4 separate regions of the Homo sapiens genome follow, and all the other regions are reported to be linked to region 1. Evidence: microRNA targets listed by miRTarBase, many of them from high-throughput screens and not tested one by one. Region 1 holds a microRNA gene; each other region holds the end of a gene's coding sequence.

What was found. The annotated mature microRNA hsa-miR-7854-3p reads UGAGGUGACCGCAGAUGGGAA and lies in region 1 at 3,594-3,614, shown strand. An mRNA with a match to its seed (bases 2 to 7 or 8) in the 3' UTR can be bound and repressed. Matches are read on the target gene's strand: a 7mer-m8 pairs with bases 2 to 8, a 7mer-A1 pairs with bases 2 to 7 and ends in A, and an 8mer does both.
Region 2: the mRNA of ZDHHC20 is a reported target of hsa-miR-7854-3p. Seed matches in the 3' UTR shown: 7mer-A1 at 4,233-4,239.
Region 3: the mRNA of RFESD is a reported target of hsa-miR-7854-3p. Seed matches in the 3' UTR shown: 7mer-m8 at 3,515-3,521.
Region 4: the mRNA of PTPRB is a reported target of hsa-miR-7854-3p. Seed matches in the 3' UTR shown: 7mer-m8 at 1,227-1,233, 7mer-A1 at 765-771 and 7mer-m8 at 624-630.

The regions. Positions count from the first base shown.
Region 1 is chr16:81,530,349-81,535,525 of GRCh38, forward strand. It overlaps MIR7854 (microRNA 7854), which reads left to right and starts at 3,554; the gene lies at 3,554-3,618. The region is part of intron 1 of CMIP (c-Maf inducing protein); the gene reads left to right. RefSeq lists enhancers at 1,932-2,433, 2,434-2,933.
Region 2 is chr13:21,374,138-21,379,137 of GRCh38, reverse strand. It overlaps ZDHHC20 (zDHHC palmitoyltransferase 20), which reads left to right. Exons shown (of 13, transcript NM_001330059.2): 12 at 400-477; 13 at 2,483-5,000. The coding sequence ends at 437. LOC124903130 (nitric oxide synthase-like) reads right to left here and starts at 2,449. Exons shown (of 1, transcript XM_047430813.1): 1 at 556-2,449. The coding sequence starts at 1,894. The coding sequence ends at 1,544. It also overlaps the pseudogene MIPEPP3. RefSeq lists an enhancer at 1,678-2,194.
Region 3 is chr5:95,655,399-95,660,398 of GRCh38, reverse strand. It overlaps RFESD (Rieske Fe-S domain containing), which reads right to left. Exons shown (of 6, transcript NM_001131066.2): 6 at 2,317-4,353. The coding sequence ends at 4,090. It overlaps SPATA9 (spermatogenesis associated 9), which reads left to right. Exons shown (of 5, transcript NM_031952.4): 5 at 1,486-2,084. The coding sequence ends at 1,776. Among named protein-coding and RNA genes, the nearest start is that of RFESD, 11 kb to the right of the region's middle.
Region 4 is chr12:70,517,434-70,522,433 of GRCh38, forward strand. PTPRB (protein tyrosine phosphatase receptor type B) reads right to left here. Exons shown (of 34, transcript NM_001109754.4): 34 at 1-4,078. The coding sequence ends at 4,056. It overlaps PTPRB-AS1 (PTPRB antisense RNA 1), which reads left to right. Exons shown (of 9, transcript XR_001749196.2): 4 at 1-5,000. Among named protein-coding and RNA genes, the nearest start is that of PTPRB-AS1, 52 kb to the left of the region's middle.

The DNA of each region.
Region 1 (5,177 bases):
ACCTAGGTGCAGTTCCTGTTCCTCCCGTCTCGCCTCTGTTGCGCTGCAAGGTGGGGTGTGTAGTGAGTATCACTGTAACCTGTACTTTTCTAAAGTCAAACAGATTTCTCTTGGTGGGAGGACGTGTCTTTTGTGGGATCGGTGTAGCCCGTCTGAGTCAGTGACTCACCTGGCACCCCTGGCAGCTGACTTTCCTGGCAGTTCACTCGAGTCTCTTGCCTCTGCTCACAAAAGCCTGCGCCTTTATTCAGCTTTCCTCACCGCTTCCCAAGGCAGAGCAGAGCCTCTCCCGCCCGCCTCCCACATCTCTCCCTTAGCTGGGTGCCCGCGTGGCTGCTACCTCCGAGGCTTCTGTGTCACCGGGTAGTGGAAATGTCACCGAGTGTCAGAGCTTCGAGCCTCCTCCAGATCCATCCAAGGTGGCATCACTAAGTGGCATTTGTGTGCTAGGCACGTACCCTCTTTTACATACATTATCTTCGATCAGTTCAGCTTCTTCTGCATAAAAAAGAAATTTCTCTACCGTCCCAGGGAGAATAATTGGAAAAGCGAGCCCTGAGTACTCAGCCCACCCGCCCTTCTCCTGCTGAACTGTCGAACGTAGCCACCAGCTAGCCTGAGCTTGTTCTGATGTCTTCTGGGATCGTCATTGTTATGGGTTGAACTGTAGCCTTCAAAAGGCACGTTTACGCTGTAGTCTCTGTACCTGTGAGCATGACCTTCTTTGGAAATAGGGACTTTGCAGATGCGACCAAGTTAAGATCATGCTGGAGGTCATGCGGGAGGTCATGCTGGAGGAGAGTGGGCCCAAATCCAGTGACTGTGTCCGTAAAAGATGAGGGAAACTTAGACACAGAGAGACACACAGGGACGAGCACCGTGTGACAGCAGAGACAGATTCAGCTGCTAGCCAAGGAATGCCAAGGATTTTGGCAGCCCCAGAAGCCCCAGAAGCTGAGAGAGGTGTGGAGCAGATCCTGCCTCAGAGCCTCCGGAGGAAATCAACCCTGTTGACATCTTGACTTAGGACTCTCAGCCTCCAGAACTTTAAGAAAGCACATTGCTGATATGCAGGCCACCTGGTTTATGGTCTGTTGTTCAGGAGGCCCTTGGGACATCAATGCCCTCAGTCCAGTCTCGATTCTACGACCCTACCCGTGTTTTGTTTTTCACACCAGGCCGTCTCTACCCGCATGGTTAGTGCTGACCAAGTAGGAAGTTGGGACACTTGAGGCATCTCTGTGACGTGCTCACATGGCTTGAGGAGGCTCGGGCCACACCTCGAGGGGCAAGCCTGGGCCTGCCGCCCGACCTTTGCTTGGAGAACTGGGTTCACTGGGTTTAAGAATCATTCCTTTTCCTTCCAAGTTAACTGCTTTCAAGAGGTCAACCCGTGTGTCATGGCTTTTCCCAGACTGGCTGATTCAAACCATGTCACCACCAGGAAGGGGGAAACAGAAGATGATTGACTAAGAAACATTCATTTCTGTTGCAAATTACTAGTTGGGGCTAGTTGTTGATTATCTCACCTCCATTGCTATTTGTATTTAGAAATGGCTCATAAATTTGCTTACATGGGTTTGGTTTGTCTTCTAAATGAAATGATTGCACTGCACATACTTCTAAAACTGTCCTGCGATTTGATAGCTTCCATTTCATGGCGCTTCTTCTGGATGTCAGGCACTAAGTCGGGCGCTTTATTCTGTAGTTCTCCTAGCAATCTGGTGAGCTCCACTCTACAGATAAGGAAATCGAGGCCAAGGACAGCTAAAGAAGCGAGGTGCGCAAGGTGCCCAGGTCCGAAGTGTTTCCGCTGCTTTCAGACTGCAGTCCCAGGGCTCAGGAGTCCATGCTTTCTGCGTATCTTCACGCTGGCCACGGATCACCTCATCATTAGATGTCGAAGTTGAACAAGTGGTGTTCACATTCGGACGTGTGTTAGGTAGAAGTGTGTGTGCACCTGCGTGTGCGTGTATGTTCCACACGCTGATGCAGGAGGTATACGCACAGATATAATTGTCTTTTAGAAGATTGACTATCACTAATTTTGAAAAATTTCCTGAATGACCTTTCCTGCCAGGCCAATACATTGAGCCCAACAGATAAATCCCTGAACTTATTCGCAGTCTCTAAGTACCTTTAGAATCCCGGGGGTCGCCCTGAGCCTCCCCAGGGACTAGCGCTGTTGCCCTCGCTCAGTCTCGCCACCACAGGAGGCCTCGGCTTGCCCAGCAGCTGAGTCGGGAGAACCTTTCCCAGGTCCCGAGGCAGCGGGAGGCGAAGCCAGGAGACCCACCTGGTGCCAGGGAAGAGCTGTCACCTGGGCCTTTCCTCCAGGAGCCTCCAAGGAAGGTGGAGGTGTGACATCAGAGTGTTGGGATGTGGAGGGGTGTGACTCCCTGGGATGCAGCTCTGTGCCCTGACTCCAGTGTGCCATGCTTGGCTGATCTCTCAATGATTAACTGTGTGACCTTGGACACACCGTGTTGCCTCCTGCGCCTCTCTGCCCAGACAGCATGGCAAGTGAAAGCCTCCCTCCCTTACTGATGGTGTGATCTGGGCTGCCTCCTTGGACACGCCAAGCCTGCTGTGCCTCGAGGCCTTTGCCCTGACTGCTTCCTCTGCCTGGGATGCCTGTTGTCTAAACACCCACACCACACGCTCCCTCGCTTCCCTCCTGTCTCCTGTCAGAAGTCACCTCCTTGGGCTGTCCTTGATCATTCCATCCATCCAAAAAGTTGGCACCCACTCCCACAATTTTTTATTTCTCGTTCCCTGACTTACGTTTTTTTCTCCTGAGCATATGTTATCATCTGACAGACCACGCGTTTCTTACTTATTTTGTTTATTATTCCATCCCACTAGAAAGGCAGGGGTTTGCCTGTTTTTTCCCCATGACTGTATCCCCAGCATTTAGAACAGGGCCTGGCACCTGCTAGATGCTCAGTACATAGTTTTGAGTGAGTGAACGAATGAATGAATCATCAGTCAGTCAAACTTTGCAGCACTCACTTTGTCCATTGGAATAAAGTTTGCCTGTTAAGTACATGGTAGCCACTCAGTACATGGTAGCTAAGGTTATGTGCATGATTTTTTATATTATTGTCATTATGTGCTTTATTGTTTTTATTTTTATTTTTATTTTTTTGAGACGGAGTCTCTTTTTGTCACCCAGGCTGGCATTCAGTGGTGTGATCTTGGCTCACTGCAGCCTCCGTCTCCCGGGTTCAAGCAGTTCTCCTGTCTCAGCCTCCAGAGTAGCTGGGACTATATGCACGTGCCGCCATGCCCAGCTAATTTTTTGTATTTTAGTAGAGACAGGGTTTCACCGTGTTGCCCAGGCTGGTCACAAACTCCTGAGCTCAGGCAGTCCACCTGCCTCTGCCTCCCTAAGTGCTGGGATTACAGGCATGAGCCACCGCGCCTGGCCTATGTGCTTTATTTTTACAATCAGAGGGCTGCACTAGCAGATCTGAGAGCATGACCGGGGTGGAGTCCATGCAGGGCCGCAGGGAACACTAGTCAGAAGGAGGCAGTGAACCTCTCCTGCCCTTTCCTTCCATCTCCATCACCTTGAGCATCTTCTGGGCAGCTGAGGTGACCGCAGATGGGAAGGAAGGGCGCAGAGATGAGCATTTTCTTCTCTCCACCATCTGGTTCCAGGCAGGGCAGGAGAGGGCCCCGTGAGAGCTACTGCTCACGGCTACCACGGCTGCCTGTGGGTCAGAGCATCTCCACGCTGGAGCTGGGCCACACTGGTTCCTGCACCCGGGCAGCCTGTGGCCAGGCTGCGTTTCAAAGCCAGGACTTTCAGGAATGCACCCTTTTGACCACACAGCAAGGCCACACATACCCAATAGCAGTGGACTCTGAGCTCTTTAAAATTGTGAATGTTGCCCAGTGGCCCTCAGTCAGGATTTGTTCCATTAAACCTCATTCACTGCCCTCATTTTATGGGTTTGTTGACTGTTTGCATTTGCTCCGCAAGTTGTTTATATTCTTTGTGTGTTTTATTTTCAATTATGGCATGTGTCTTTAAAAAAAGATTGTAAGGGTTTCTTTTGAAATATAGAAAACTGTTCATCCTTTTTCAAATCATTTATGTAGCAGTTATTACTCTCCAACTTTTTTTGTTTTTCTAGTCTCTTGATTTTGTTTGAGGTATTTATTGATATATAGAAGTTATATATTTTTCTGTGGTCAGAGTTGAGTGTCTTAATTAGTGACTTCTTAATTAGTGTCTTCGTGGCTTAGAGAGTTCTTCCAAATTTTAAGATTGAGCAAACATTCCCCATAAAAAAAAAAACAAAACTATAGAACTGTAAAATTAACCTAGAACTAAGCACCTACACCCAGGATAAATTTTTGGTATAAGGTGTGAGGCAGGGAATAATGCTATTCCTTCCCTCCAAATAGTTAATGGATTGTCTGTTATCATTCACTCAATAGTGTGCCCTTTTCCCATTGCTTTAAAATATTGCTATTATCAGATACTAAATTTTTCAAATATGTGCTAAGTTTCCTTTTAGGCTTTCTGTTAGTTACCACTGATATACTGTCCTTGCTCTGCCACTGTGCTGTTTTATTCCAGCTTCATAGTGTTTTGTTTGTTTGTTTTTTGAGACGGAGTCTTGCTCTGTCTCCCAGGCTGGAGTGCAGAGGCGTGATCTCGGCTCACTCTAAGCTCTGCCTCCCGGGTTCATGCCATTCTCCTGCCTCAGCCTCCTGAGTAGCTGGGACTCCAGGCACCTGCCACCATGCCCAGCTAATTTTTTGTACTTTTAGTAGAGACGGGGTTTCACTGTGTTAGCCAGGATGGTCTCGATCTCCTGACCTAGTGATCTGCCTGCCTCAACCTCCCAAAGTGCTGGCATTACAGGTGTGAGCCACCACGTGGCCCATAATTTTTTTAAAATTGAGCCCTCTCCTTTTAAAGATGAAGGAACTGAGGCACCAGAGAGGTCAAGCAACCTGCCCAAGGTCACACAGCCAAATGCTGTCTGAGAATCTCACATGCATAAAATTCCAGTGTATTTAACCTTCTCGTGGGCTGTGTCTCATGATGCTTCCCTGTGCTTCTTTCCTGTCACTTCTGCTCATGGTATAGCACTGGAATGCTTTTTTTTTTTTTTTTTTTAAACAGCTGTTGTACGTTCTTTCTCTAAGTGGAGCTAGTC
Region 2 (5,000 bases), not on the chromosome of region 1:
TATCTTTAGGATCTTCATTGGGATCATTACATCTTTTGTATAAGGTCAAGGAAAAATTCCAAAGTTTAAGGCCAGCCTAGGCAATACTATTAAGGCCCGTCTCTAAAAAATAACAATCTAGGGAAAAGTTCATTTTGTGAACTTCTTAATTATTGCTGTTTAACATCTTTAAAGCCAATAGGTATTTCCACAAGATAAACATAAAATCAAACTTTTGACTGCTAATGTTAGCTCTTTACTTACTTCTAGGTTCTATAAGAAGACAAATGGTTGACACCATAAGCCTATTTTGTATTTACATGATAGTCATTTTTGCTGTCATTTTACCATTTAGCCAGAAACTTAATACTTCTTTTTTTTTTTTTTTTTGTCATGTCATATATAATTATATGCTTACAGGGACAAATAACCATGTAACAGTGGCAATAGAAAATTGAGTACCACTTGTTCATAACTAACCATTTGAATAAGAGCAAGGTAAGACAGTATAAAGGTAATCCTTGAATAAATGCAGCTTATTTGCATATTTCATAATCTTTAAACAATTTGCAGTTGTATTTTTTTAGTCTTTTTAATTATATCAGCAAAATTAGGCAGTACAGGAAAGACTAGAATGTAACATCTGCCCAAATCTCATTTTCCTTATTCCTTATAGAATAATCTTAGTAATTATTTGTTGGTAAATTAATGAAGAAACTAATAAAAATAGTTTAGGACTAGTATGTGGACCACTGGCCTTTTCAGAAGGCAGTACCTTATTAATTAAAGAAAAAAAGGTGGGCAGGCAAGGTGGCTCACACCTCTAATTCCAGCACTTTGGGAGTTCAAGGTGGGAGGATCACTTAAGTCCAGGAGTGAGAGACCAGCCTGGGTCAGATACTTAAATTAGTATAGTGAGACCTCATCTCGACAAAAAATAAAAAATTAGCCAGGTTTGTGTTGATGCACACCTGTATAGTCCCAGTTACGTGGGAGGCTGAAGTGGGAGGATCACTTGAGCCCAGGAGGTCGAGGCTGCAATGAGCCAAGATGGCACAAGCTGCACTCCAGCCTGGGTAACAGAGCAAGGCCCTGTCTCAAAAAAAGAAAAAAGAAAAAAAGGTGACTTTTGTCCACTATTGAGGAAATTCGACCCAGAGAAAAATGACCAAAATTAAAGGCTCTAAGAAAGAAATAAGAGGTTTATCTATGTTATATGGTTTGTAAAAGACACAGCAAGAGAAAATTGCTAAGTAGGAAATTACCACAAACATGGAGCTTATCGCATTTATCATCCTGTTCCTGTATAACAGGAGTTTGTTTTTCTAGAGGCATCTTATCTTTAGTGTCAGCTAGAGGAGCATCTGTTTCCTCACTTGTGGGCTTGTCCTCAGCAGTTAGGTCCTTGCAGAGGACCTGGAGCCTGCGGGCAGGGCTGCAGCCAGAGCCTAAGACCCAGGACGGAGTCAGATCACAGGCACTAGGGGTGGAGGTCACGTCGGGCAGAGTCAGATCACAGGCACTAGGGGTGGAGGTCACGTCGGGCAGAGTCAGATCACAGGCACTAGGGGTGGAGGTCACGTCGGGCAGTCAGATCGCAGGCACTAGGGGTGGAGGTCATGTCGGGCAGAGTCAGATCGCAGGCACTAGGGGTGGAGGTCACGTCGGGCAGAGTCAGATCGCAGGCACTAGGGGTGGAGGTCACGTCGGGCAGAGTCAGATCACAGGCACTAGGGGTGGAGGTCACGTCGGGCAGAGTCAGATCACAGGCACTAGGGGTGGAGGTCACGTCGGGCAGAGTCAGATCGCAGGCACTAGGGGTGGAGGTCACGTCGGGCAGAGTCAGATCGCAGGCACTAGGGGTGGAGGTCACGTCGGGCAGAGTCAGATCGCAGGCACTAGGGGTGGAGGTCATGTCGGGCAGTCAGATCGCAGGCACTAGGGGTGGAGGTCACGTCGGGCCGAGTGCGCTGCAGTCAGAAGAGGAGCTGTGTCCCGCATACGGTGATTGTAAGCCAGGTCCATGCCACCAAGAGCTGGAGCTGTGGAGTAGTACTTGGTCCCCAGAAAAGCCCTCAGTCTGAGGTCCACATTTCTTCTTAATGTGGGCAGAAATAATTGCTGATGCTTGTGGTGGTTGAGAATCCTCAGCTGCAGTTCCTTTAACAGTTGCTGTGGGAAGTTTTCTACATCTTGCGCCAATCTTAGGACAGGTGTAGGTGGACCAGATGTCTTCTCAGATGATGTCCAAGTTAGCAGTCTGGGAGTACTGTAAGATTCTTCCTTTTAAAATACTCTTTTGATTGCTTCTGGGGAAGACAGTAATACCCACTCATTTACTGCTACAAAAATCTTTATTGTTATAATATTAGTAGTGTTAAGGAATTCATTTTCCATCTTGTTATATTAGTAGCTTTGTACCTTAGCCCACAGAACCATTTAGTAAATATTTTCAGAAATAAAAAATCAAGTTTTAACCAATAATTTGTTTCTTTTTTTGTAGGTGTATGAAAACATTATAGACTGGTATTTTCAATTTTCATTTGCAAGAAAATGATCAGTGGAATGAAATAACTGAAGTATAACAGAAGATATATTTTTTAAAACGGAAAGCCTTTGTACAGTTCCTGGGATTCACAGAAGCACTACTCCAGAGCAGAATGATGCCTTAATCTTAAGTGTCCATTTGTGCAGCATTGACTTAGAGCTACAAAAGTGACTTAATGTTATTCTGGAAATAATACTTACCTGTTATGAGTTGCTATAATATGAGCTGTCATCACATTTTAACATGCATATGTATTTTTTGATACCTGAATTACATTATTAGAATAAGTATCCATATACATTTTCACTCCAAAAACACAAGCTTAAAAACTTTAAAGTACATCTAGGGCAAATGGTGGCTGAAAGTGAATAATATTCAAATTACTGTTGCTTGTACTGTATAAGGAAAACTGCTTTTTTAAATTGGGTATTTGCTAATTTATAATTACTATTTTATACTTTTCAACATTTTTAATAACTTTTTTTATTGTTGGCTATAACAGAAGGATTCAGATATCTAAATATCATTTAGAACATAGAACACATTGGTCTAATTCATCGAAAGCTTAGTTATGAGCATTAATACAACCATGTAGTAGAGCAAGTGCCCAAGGTTTAAAGGGAACTTGGCAGTATAAGAAATATTTTGGGTTCTCTCTGCTATTTTATAGCTTTTTTTGTTGAACTTTCAGGGGTATGTACATGGGCAGAGAAACACAAAGGTACATGTGCTGGAGAATACTGGACACAGTAGGAAGAAGTATAGGTGTCCAGAAGAAAATCTAAGAGGAATATTGTAATTTGTTAAAAAAAATAGTTTTGAGTTTTAACAGCAGTTAGAATAAAGCATGCTGTTGACTTCACTTTCAAATTTCAGTGTAGGTAATGACTAAAAATTACTTTGAAACTTTTTACAGTAATACTGTAATAGCTTAAACAGTGATTTAAAATGCAATTTAAACTAGGCAAAAAAAACTTTAGAGTAAGTTTTCCTCCTGGCTGTCAGTTGGAAATTCTAACCTGAGTGGTCATTTTACATTCCCAGTCTCTTGAGAAGTGGATTCTACTCTTAGACGCACAGTCTGAAGTCTGACTTCCTAACGGCAACCCCTTTATGACTAGACACATTTCTCCTTTTTCCTTTTAAAATCTAAGCGACAGGAGGTGTTGCATTAACTCCAAGGAAAAGTACAGAATAAACAATGTAGAAATGTCACTCCTCATTTACACCTTTTAGACAGACAGACACACACACACACACACCCCCCCCAAAATAATTGATTGCTTCCAGTGAGTGGGTGGAGATGAATCTCAGCAGCATCTGTGAGTACTACAGGTTGGAGCTTCCTGTCTGTAAAATGGGACTGCAGGGGAGGGGGTGTTGTGAATAAGTTGGACTGGATGACTTCTAACATTCTGTGATGCCTAATTTTGCAAAATCACTTTTCATTCACCCAATAAATTTTTTTCTTCTTTTTTCCACAGAGTTTTGCTCTGTCTCCCAGGCAGGAGTGCAGTGGCGGGATCTTGGCTCGCTGCAACCTCTGCCTTCCAGGTTCAATAGAGTCTCCTGCCTCAGCCTCCCAAGTAGCTGGGATTACAGGCTCATGCCACCATGCCCGGCTAATTTTCACATTTTTAGAAGAGACGAGGTTTCACCATGTTGACCAGGCTGATCACTAACTCCTGACCTCAAATAATCCACCCACCTCAGCTTCCCAAAGTGCTGGGATTACAGGCGTGAGCCACCACGCCCCGCCCCGGTAAATTTTTTGGAGTACCTTCTGTATGCTAAATAATAAACTAGGAATAGCTCTGTCATTTCCTAGTACAGCATAAATTTTATGGTTGCTACTGTAGGTTTATAATTTGTTTATAATTTGGCCTAATTTCCATCAGCCATACTAATATTGGATTTTAAAAGGAGGCAACTTTTTTTCTTTTTGAACCAAAGGAATGAGTTAGCTTTGAAAACATAATTTGGGATATTATAGTATGGATTCTTCTACCTTTGTTTCAACTCCTTAGTAATCTTGATTCTAGCAAACTAGAATGAGATTTAAGAGATACCAATTATTGCTGGGTGTGGTGGCTCATGCCTGTAATCCCAGCACTTTGGGAGGCCAAGGCTGGCGGATCACCTGAGGTCAGGGGTTCGAGATTAGCCTGGTCAAAATGGCAAAACCCTGTCTCCACTAAAAATACAAAAAAACCCCAAAACTGTCCAGGCATGGTGGCACACGCCTGTAGTCCCAACTACTCGGGAGGTGGAGGCAGGAGAATCACTTGAACCCAGGAGGTGGAGGTCGCAGTGAGCCGAGATCGTGCCACTGCACTCCAGCCTGGGCGACGAGTGAAACTCCATCTCAAAAATATATATATATATCAATTACCAACTAAAAACATAACTCCAGTTTGGCAGTTTGCATATTATAAGGAGATAAATGTTAAAACATACTTGACTACTTTCAGAA
Region 3 (5,000 bases), not on the chromosome of region 1:
TGAATGTCCGTGCTTCCCCCAAATTCTTATGTTAAAATCTAATCCCAAGGTGGTGGTATTAGCAAGTGGGGCCTTTGGGAAGTGATTAGGTAATGAGAGCAGAGTCCTCATGAATGGGATTAGTGCCCTTAGAAATGAGGCCTGAGACAGCTGCCTTGTTTCTTCCACCATATGAGGACATAGATAGAAGGTACCATCTATGAAACAGAAAACCAGCCCTCACCAGACCCTGAATCTGCCAGTGCCTTGATCTCGGATTTCCCACTCTCCAGAACTGTGAGAAATAAATTTCTATTGTTTGTAAGCTACTCAGTTCATGGTATTTTGTTACAGCAGCCCTAAAAGCCTAAGACAACAGGGTCTTTCCCTCTTTTTCTTCTAAAAACTTTTTAGTCCTTAGGTTTGTTGCCTCATGATCAAGCATCACAATACTATCAGTGTTCAAAGAAGGAAGAGGGAGATAGGTAGAGGGAAAAGACAGTCTATATAGGAGGAAAAACTTTTCCAAAAATCCTTTCTGAGTTCCATCCCAGCAGACATATCATTTTATTTCATTAGTTACAGGGTAGCTAATGAACTAACTGCAGGGAAGTGAGGGAAAGTGTCTTGTGTTCCTCAATTCTATAGCAAGAGGCAGGCAAGAAGGAGGCAGGAGGCAGGAGGGCAAGAGGAAGTTGAGGCTGTTCAAGCCTGAGGACCTCAATCCTTTTGCTGTTACCTCTTTCGGAAAACCTTCTAAGTGTTTATAATCTTTTATATTACCTTGAGGCATTTCTTCGGTGAAATAAACTGGTTTAAGTCTTCTCATATTTCATGAATTTTCCGTTCTCACCGCGTGCCTTGAATACTCAGCATCATCATCATCTTCATCATTAGTAAACTTACAGAGTAAGTTTAATTAATGCAGTCCTTAGTGGTTCTGAATTTCTGAAGTTATTTTTCTCTGTTTTATTTTTGACACTCCTCTCCTTAAAGTACTGAGTGGCATATTTGGAGGGGACAGTGGATCACATATTTGCTCAGAAACCACTGATAGTAGCTTACTAAATTCTTACTGATATGTTGATGTCCTTTCATTGCACATGTAAGTATAAGCAAAGTCTAGGGGGAAGAAAATTAAAACAAAAAAACTACTTTGAGAAAAACCATGTTTGAGGACAAATTCCATCTCTCAGAAAATGTTTCATTTAATTACATCAAGAGAATAAAGATGTAAAACAGCTAATGAATTGGGGGGAAAAGATGTAAAACATATATTTATTGAAGCATACTAGGTTTTAAATTGCTCTCTAGATTGTAATGTATTATTTAGAACAATCTCCCAATGCTTATTATATTATGTACCTGAAGGTCCTGAAAAGAAGTGTTTTTTATTAGATTATGTAGATTAAATGACTTTATGTGGAACACTATATTGTATGTTTTTAATCTGTGGTTAGTAGCTTAAAAAGAAACTTCACTTTACAAACTCTTTTTATTGTATAGGCAGTCTGTGTTAATGCTGTGCTGAAGAAGGTAAAGAACATCTTCCAGGAAGAAGAATCCATAAGGCAAAACAGAGAGGAGAGTGAAAATTGTAGAAAAGCCTTTTCTGAGCCTGTGCTTTCGGAGCCTATGTTTGCTGAAGGTGAAATCAAAGCAAAACCTTATAGGTCATTGCCGGAGAAGCCAGACATTTCAGATTACCCCAAGCTTCTTGCTAATAAGCAGAGTAATAACATCCAAGTTTTACATTCTGTGTTTGACCAATCAGCTGAAATGAATGAGCAAATCTGAATACAGGTATCACTGAACAGAACTTAAGAGTTATCTATTTAATGGCACATTTCATCTGACAAAACTCAGAGTCTAGTTTACATATTCTGAATTGCTCTGCTTTCTTAAAAAAAAGAGAAGGGGGCTACTATTAAAATGTCATTTTCTAGTATTTACATGATAGAGTAAATAAAATGAATATTGATGTGGAATATATGTACTGACTACATACTTTTAATGAACAAGAAAATCCATCCTCTGGTAGGTTAGACTTTACACTGTGGTTTATAATATAAGCATATTTATAATACATTAATGTTTTTATTAAAGACTTGTTTTGAGTGTCTAATTCTTTACTTGGGAGGAAAAAAAGCCCCATCAAGATGGTGCATATCAAAATAAAAGAATATTTATTTTTTATATGCAGACTGGAGAGTTTGAGTCTGCCTATTATTATTTTGTAAATCACTTGCAAAGTTATGAAGGATTTGCAATTCACAGATGTCATAAATTTATAAAACAAAATATTACTTACCAATGTGATGAGAAGATTTCTGTATATGAAGACAGTACATGATATGATTTTTATTTCTAGATTTAGAGATACAAATTTAGAATGAAAAATCAAGTGCACACTACTCATTATTGCCAGTGGCTCCTATGAGAAAATATTTCTGTAATTATTCCTGCAAACCAGGGCTAGTTTTTGCCTGAAGAAAGTACTTTGATTTCTTCTGTACACTTTATATTCTGGACATGTGTTAAGACCTGACTGGGCATTGAAGGATTATCACATGATAGAATAGACTGGGATGTACCTTCCTGAGAGATAGTACATTTTCTGTACTTAGTAAGTAGCTGCTACCACAAACAGTATCTATAAAAAGCCCAAGTCTGGTTCGTTGGTTGTCTGAGAAATGAGGACCAAGTGCTACTCATGCTATCCAAACTCCAACAGAAAAGGAAGTGTAATAATATGTAGTAAAGGTAAGTAAGCAGAGTCTTTACTATACGGACCTTACTCATTTACTATTTTTATAATAACCAAGAGAAAGAGTCCAGGTCGGCTCCTTAGAATGTTAAGTATTAGATTTAGATTCTTAATTCTATTCCTTTAAAAATACTACTGTGCTTTGAGACTAGGTTCCAATCTTGACAGTTCTTCTCACTCTGAATTCATCATCTACTCATTTTAGCTATTTCTGGTCCCACATAGTGGTGATTTTTGCATGAGCACTGACCATGCAAAAATCACCACTATGTGCTGCTGATTTTTGCATGGTGGGTGCTTGGGGTGTTATTTTAAATACATTACAACTGGTACGGTATGACCATCATTGCAACTGAATGGTACTGACCATAAATAACTGACATGATAAAACCAGGGTGAACCAACTGAACATCAACCTTGCTCGGGAACTCCAAGGAACAAAACCCTAGATCTCCTCTCTATAATATTTATAGGAGACACTTAGTTGTGCCTACATTCACAAAGTTCTAAAACGTTTTTAAAAATCTTTATTTGAAAATTTCATATAGGCATTCAAAGAACATTGGCTCACTGAATAGGAGACTTTACATCTCTCATGGCTGGGCAGCAGCTGTGTCTGGCTTCCTTACTTCAAGATCTGCCTTGATCACAGATCACTTAACAGTGGTTAAGTTTCTTATTTTCAAGTTCAGCAGGTAAACCTATCTCATTTTTGGAGGCATTTTTTAAGTATAAAAAGTCTGTTATTTAGGAAGGTTGCACAGTTCAGAGGTGAACATTTCAATGTATTTAAACTTTCCTAAAAATGTAAAAATAACAATCAAATAGGAGAGGTAGCAAATCCACAGAGGTATAAATAAAACAAGAATGGAAGAATGCTGATAACTGTTAAAGCTGAGTGATGGAAGTTCATTATATAGTCTGTTTACTTTGTATATACTAAAACTTTTCCAGAATTAAGTCTGCTACATCAAACAGGGATTTTTTCCTATTTTAAAAATTAAATTTTTTAAATTAAAAAATTTTTTCTTACTAATCCTTAATTTTTACCTATTATTTGTTTACTCCAAATTTATTTTTATCCTTCTTAAACAGAACATCCCAAACCTATAACCTTCAGGTTTCTAATTAATCCAGAAGATTCGATAAAATGTATTCTATTGATCCTGATGATAATCCTTACATCATACTAAGTATGTGTGCTCTTAAACCTCTCAAATGTATGTGAATTTTAAACAGTTGTGCCTATGTTGAAAAATTTCATCACCTTTAAAACTGAAGCAGAGTTATTCTAAAAATGTTTTCAAGCATACACAACATTTTTCATTTCTATATATTTTTTATCAGGAAGAACTCTTAATTACTTTGAAGTCTCCAGTGGCATAAAAATCAGAGTCACACTTAAAAGGTTCATTAGAAAGAGTCACATAAATATTTCCGTTGTCTACTGTCACTGTGTGAATCCTTTGCTTTATTCCTTTGGAGCACCACTTGGGTTTTGCTGATGGATCTTTAGGGTTTATAGACTGGTACAGACCTTCTCCTGTTGCCAAAGTAATTTTGTATTTATGCCAGGGGCAAACTATACACGGTCGTCCATCAAAATCCTGGGGAAGAGAATAACTCATTTAATATTCTGACATGTCAAATGTTCTTGATAGACTCTGAAGAGTCTGCTGCAGAAGAACCAGGTTAAAAAAACAGGTTAGCTTTTCTTTTTTTCCTCCTATGTACAAATTATTCAGCATAAAGCAGATCCTAATCTGAGAAGAGTCATCAAGCTCTTTTACAGTTGATTAGAAAGCCAGTTAGAGCTCTATCAGAAGACTGACATGCTCAGGCAACTAAACCATGTGACTGCAGCTGTGCTGTTATCTATTAGATGTTAATGTCGCCTCCTTGACAGAAATGGGGCAAGGACTTCAAGTGCTTCTATAGGAATTTTCACTAGCTTCTAGAAGAACTGTAAGGTTCAGATATAAATTCAAAAGGAGTTACTAAAGGCATGAGTGCATATGATAATAGAAGAGCAATTTGTGATCCAAAGTAGTTAATTCTCAACTTTTTAACTGTCTTGGTGAAGTGCTTCTCAAACTTTAAAAAACATAGGAAGCACCTGGATCTTGTTTCAATGCATGTCTCTCTGTTTAAATGTAGTAGGTCTAAGGGGTTGGGGTGACAAGATTCTGCATGTCTAAGAAGCTCCCATGTGACACCAAAGTTGCTGGTCTATGGACAACAGTTTGAGGAGCAA
Region 4 (5,000 bases), not on the chromosome of region 1:
TGATAGGGAACATTCTTTGAATACCTGATGTAATTCTAAATTTCAGGTTAAAAATAGCAGGGCAGAAAATTAGCACGGCATTTTCTCCTTCAACTCTTCAGGAATGAGGTAGGCTTGAGGGCTTGCTCACTGCAACTTGGAGGAGGATCAGTTATTCCTTATTGCCACTCTGTCTTGGCTAATCAGTTATATTTTCATTTCCTCAGTGAAATGGAACCCAGAAAGCCCTTGAACTGCTATCATATACAAGCAGTTTATTACCTATTGATTTTCACCAGGTCAGGTTTGGTCTGGCTCATGTTTGTAAACTAAAACTCTAGAGCGTCTCAGAGTTTGGGCTCAGATACTACCACTGCTGTTGTGCAGATCTGGTAGCTTTATGATTTCAGGATTCCAACCTCAAAGAATTCTTAGAAAGCTAAGTGAATGAGAATTTAGTATATGGCCAATAATATTATTGCAAAAGGTAAGGAAAATGTTTAACATAAGAAACTGGATCCTTAAACAGCAAGGCAAGAGAATCAGCATGTGAAGGGTAGCATGTGAGGTCTATTTTTATATTGCTGGACATCTGGTAAATGGTTTAATATTATTTTCACATGTCATTTTGGGCTTTCTTCCGAGAGGTGATTACAAAATTTATCAAAGACCCTCCCAAAGAAAACTGCCCCGAAAATGTCTGTGTGCTGTGTGCCTTTTAGTATTTAAAAGTGAATTGGCCAGGTGCGGTGGCTCACTCTTGTAATCCTAGCACTTTGGGAGGTTGAGGTGGGTGGATCACCTAAGGTCACGAGTTCAAGACCAGCCTGGCCAACATGGTGAAACCCCATCTCTACTAAAAACACAAAAATTAGCCAGACATGGTGGCAGGCACCTGTAATTCCAGCTACTTGGGAGGCTAAGGCAGAATCGCTTGAACCTGGGAGGCGGAGGTTGTAGTGAGCTGAGATTGTGCCACTGCACTCCAGCCTGGGCAACAGAGCAAGACTTCATTTCAAAAAAAAGTGAAATTATGGTCATCTCTTTGATGATGTGGAACCTGAAAGGACTATGAAATTATACTCATGGGTATAAAAGATAATATGAACAGTAGATAAAAATCACATTCAACTGGGAAAACAAACATATTCAAGTAGGAGGAGTGGGGCAAGTAATAAAACAGAGGGACTCAGAGGTTTAAGGGATAGAGAATTACTTAGGACAAATATGTGCAAGCCCAGGTAAGAGAGGTGAGTCTTTGAAAATTCTGATTCAAGAGCTGAACAATTGGCTGCTTTCCAGAGAACAACAGAATGACAATACAAAATTGATTTAATGAGATGAGGTTAAAGGAGTTAATTATAACGAACTTGGAAAAATAATTATTAAGATGCTAGATGGGACTCTCCCAAGATTTGATAGCTCAAAAGCACTTTGAAGTCTTGATGATTAAAGTGTACTGCACAGGTACACAGACAGGATGCCCACCAAGACAGGAAATGGAGTGTTTACCAAGACATAACACATGATGCAATTAAATGGAAATAAATCCAATAGAGCTGAATGTCAAGGAAAACTTTTTTTTTCTCCTAAATTTAATAAATAAGTCAATTATATATTTAGTCTTCCCAGGAGTAGGAGCGAATAGTGAAATATTTGTTGCTAAGAAGGTTTAAAATTAGGTGTAGGGTAGGAATAAACATTTCCTGGGTTGGATTAGACTAAAAAAACCTACGATTTTTCCCTGTCATGTCCATTTACATAATTCTGATACTACCCTAGATGTTGCCAGAGTACGTGAGTGTTATTTACTATTACAGATGCATAGGTTTTTTTTATGGTTTTAACTCCTGGTTTGTGCAATTAATTGCTCTCTCTCCTAGATCCAGAGGTTTGCTATTAAAGTAGCATTAGCACTTTCCAGTGTGTGGCCTGTGGAAGGTGACCACTGTCCTAGACTGGCTCAGTTATCCCATTCCCTTGATGAGGCTGTCTTTTAAGCTCAATTGAAGGTAGTAACAACAATCCTAACTTTATGAGGATTCTCTTTATGTGAGTAGAAATGTGTAGATTCTGGAACAGTGCCTAGCAGGTTGCAGATACTTACTAGAAGTTTTCTGAGTGAATGAAAAGTCGAAAATGAATGTATCCTTCCAAGCATTAATGTGCTTTGCATCAAGCAACATTAGTGTAAAATTCTGCTTTTTCTCTTTTTTCTTTTCAATGTAGGAAAGGTGATTTCTAATGGATGCCACACGTTGTAGATCTCTGACCTCTATTTTCTCGCTGGTGGTACATCTACTGCACTTACACATATGTTGTTCCTTTTCATTTCCAGAAGATTCACTTAGTTCCTTGATACAGAATCAGAGCTTAAGACTGTCATTTCACAAGAGCATTGAGCACAATGAAACTGTGAATCTTTGAAGCTTATGATTATGCTTCACATTTTTGTAAACTTCAAATAACCTTGGAAAAATTTCCAGATTGGGTGTAGAGTTATTTAATTATAAAGAACTATTTTAGGTATAGTCAATGATTTTCAATTATTATGTCAATTACATTCGTTGTATTCACTTACGGACTTTATGGTAGGTTACAAAAATATATACTTTGAAAAGAAATATACTCTTTATGCAAAGGAAGCTATGCCATCAACAAACTTGACCTCTAATTCCCAAGTTTATTACAGAAAAATTTGTAGTGTGAAAAAGGCAAACATCTCCAGCTCATCTTCTCAGGTATCTATGAAGATTCCGTACAAACTCCTTTCAAATTTTTCCCAGGAATGCTGTCGGAACTGGACCTTGATGAAGGAAATACTTTCTGACTCATTGGAATTTGTTATAGTCAAAGTAAGTAAGGCACAAATATTGAAGATAAACTTGGTACAGTATGTAGTGCCTTTTGTTATTAAATGCAACTTTGGGTGATTACTTGACATTTTGACTTCATTGATTTACTAAAAGAAGTTTTGAAAATTTTACTGAAGACCACTGTTTTTGTTTTTGCTATTGTTTTTAAATTTACTATATATGATGTTTGTAGTCATTTCTATGAAAATGTTGGCATTAAGCCTTTTAATGAGGGGCACAATCTGCTACCATAATATTCTTTTAATGGGAAATCAAGTAGGAATGGATAATTGTGACTTTTCTAGGAATGGAGACCACTGAAAATGAGACAGAAACTAGTGTGTATAAATACATTACAGTATGGGTGTGGATGTTCACACTCCACACCATGAATGCAATGAAAGGATCTCTAATCACTGTAGATAGTGCTTTGCATGTTATGTTTCCAGTCTGGGTATAGCTGGCATCTTATTAACAAAAGGAATTCATCACTTCTGTTTGGAATCATTCTCTATCAGAACCCTCAACCCTGCATCCTACCATCCTGGGCTTGCACTGCAAGTTACATGATCCCTGAGCTGACCACTTTGGCTTGAATCCCTGGAAGGAGAAAGGAGAGAGAGAGCAACTAGTTCAGACACAAGCATCTAGTTCAGCTTTGGTACTGCTTAATTCTTTTTTCTCCCTCCCTCTAATCCTTTTTTTGACTGTCACATTTGTCCTAATAGCAAGTTAGGACATGTCTGTTGGCTCTCGAGATTCATGGGACAGCAATGCAGCAAATCTAGCCATAGTATTTGCTCTCTCTAGCCCTGCCCTTTTTCCTGTCCAGTGAATATCAAAACAGGTAGAAAACATGGCCTGAAGGATTGTCTCTGCCACCACCTCCATATGCATTTTACCAGTAGTCCTGTCATACAGGTTGAATTAGTTTTATGTAGAACAAGTCATGAACACTTTAGTGTGGAAAAATAGTATTATATAAAGCTTAATATTAAACATTATGAAAAATACATATTTACAGAAGAAACTACAAAATACAACTATGTACAATAATATCTGTTACCTTTAAATTATATAAAATTTTAAACATTCTCCAGATTAATAAATTATACATAGTATCAACAGAAATAGCTGGCACCTCTGTAGGGCATGAAGCAAGTTTTTAAAAACAAATCACACAGTGAATAATTTTTATCCAGGAGCTCTTCAGGTACATTCTCAATGCCTTGAATAGACTGGATCTGAAAGGAAGAACACTGTAATTAGAGACTGCCGCAGGGTGTGTCATAATTGTTTACGCTGTTTATGAAAATTACCAATGTGAAAGACCAGCAGAAACATATAGCTCAACCTAGTTTAAGATGAGACCATTCCTATTGGGACCAGGTAATTCCATTTAGAAAGACAGATTATTAGACTTGGAAGGGACTAGTGATTCTAGCCCATCGCCTCTGTTTTTATGGATGAAGCCATAGGCCCAGAGAGGCAGAGTAACTTACTCAGGGTTACACAGCTTGTTACAGCTAGTTAGTTCGAGAGTTCGGACCTGAATCTTAGCCTTCAGCTACGTGGTGGTTATCCTTTTCTATACCATAGTTAGCTTCTTTCAGGAGTGCTCAAGATTACTCTAAAAAAAGATTCTTAAGTCAAAACAAGACAAAGGAACCTCCAAGATCCCTCAGAACTTGCTCATACTGAAGCCTCTTAAGGAATCTCCCATGCAAAAACCTTAATTTACTATACAGATCAATTAGGGTGTAATTTGTAATTATTCATAATACAAAATAATTATCTGATTTACAAAGGACTCCTCTAAATAGTAGCTCTTTATTTGTGCTTTACAGATGCTAACTCATTAACATACTGGCTAGGCTGGGTGGTAGAGAGAACTAAGTAAAAGGTTAGGAGACACTACCTGTTGAAGATCATTTAGAATGGAGATAAGAGGGTATGAAATAATGTTTGTCAAAGAAAGATTATCTGATTTATAGAGAGATACCAGTCCACATGGCAAGGAATTGTGGCTGCATCTGCCCACAGCCATGTGAACAAGCCATTATGAAGCGAGTCCTCCAGCCCCAGTCAAACCTTCAGATAATGGCAGCCCCAGTCTAAGTCTTGACTGCAACCTCCTGAAAGACTCTGGGCCAGAGCCACCAGTGA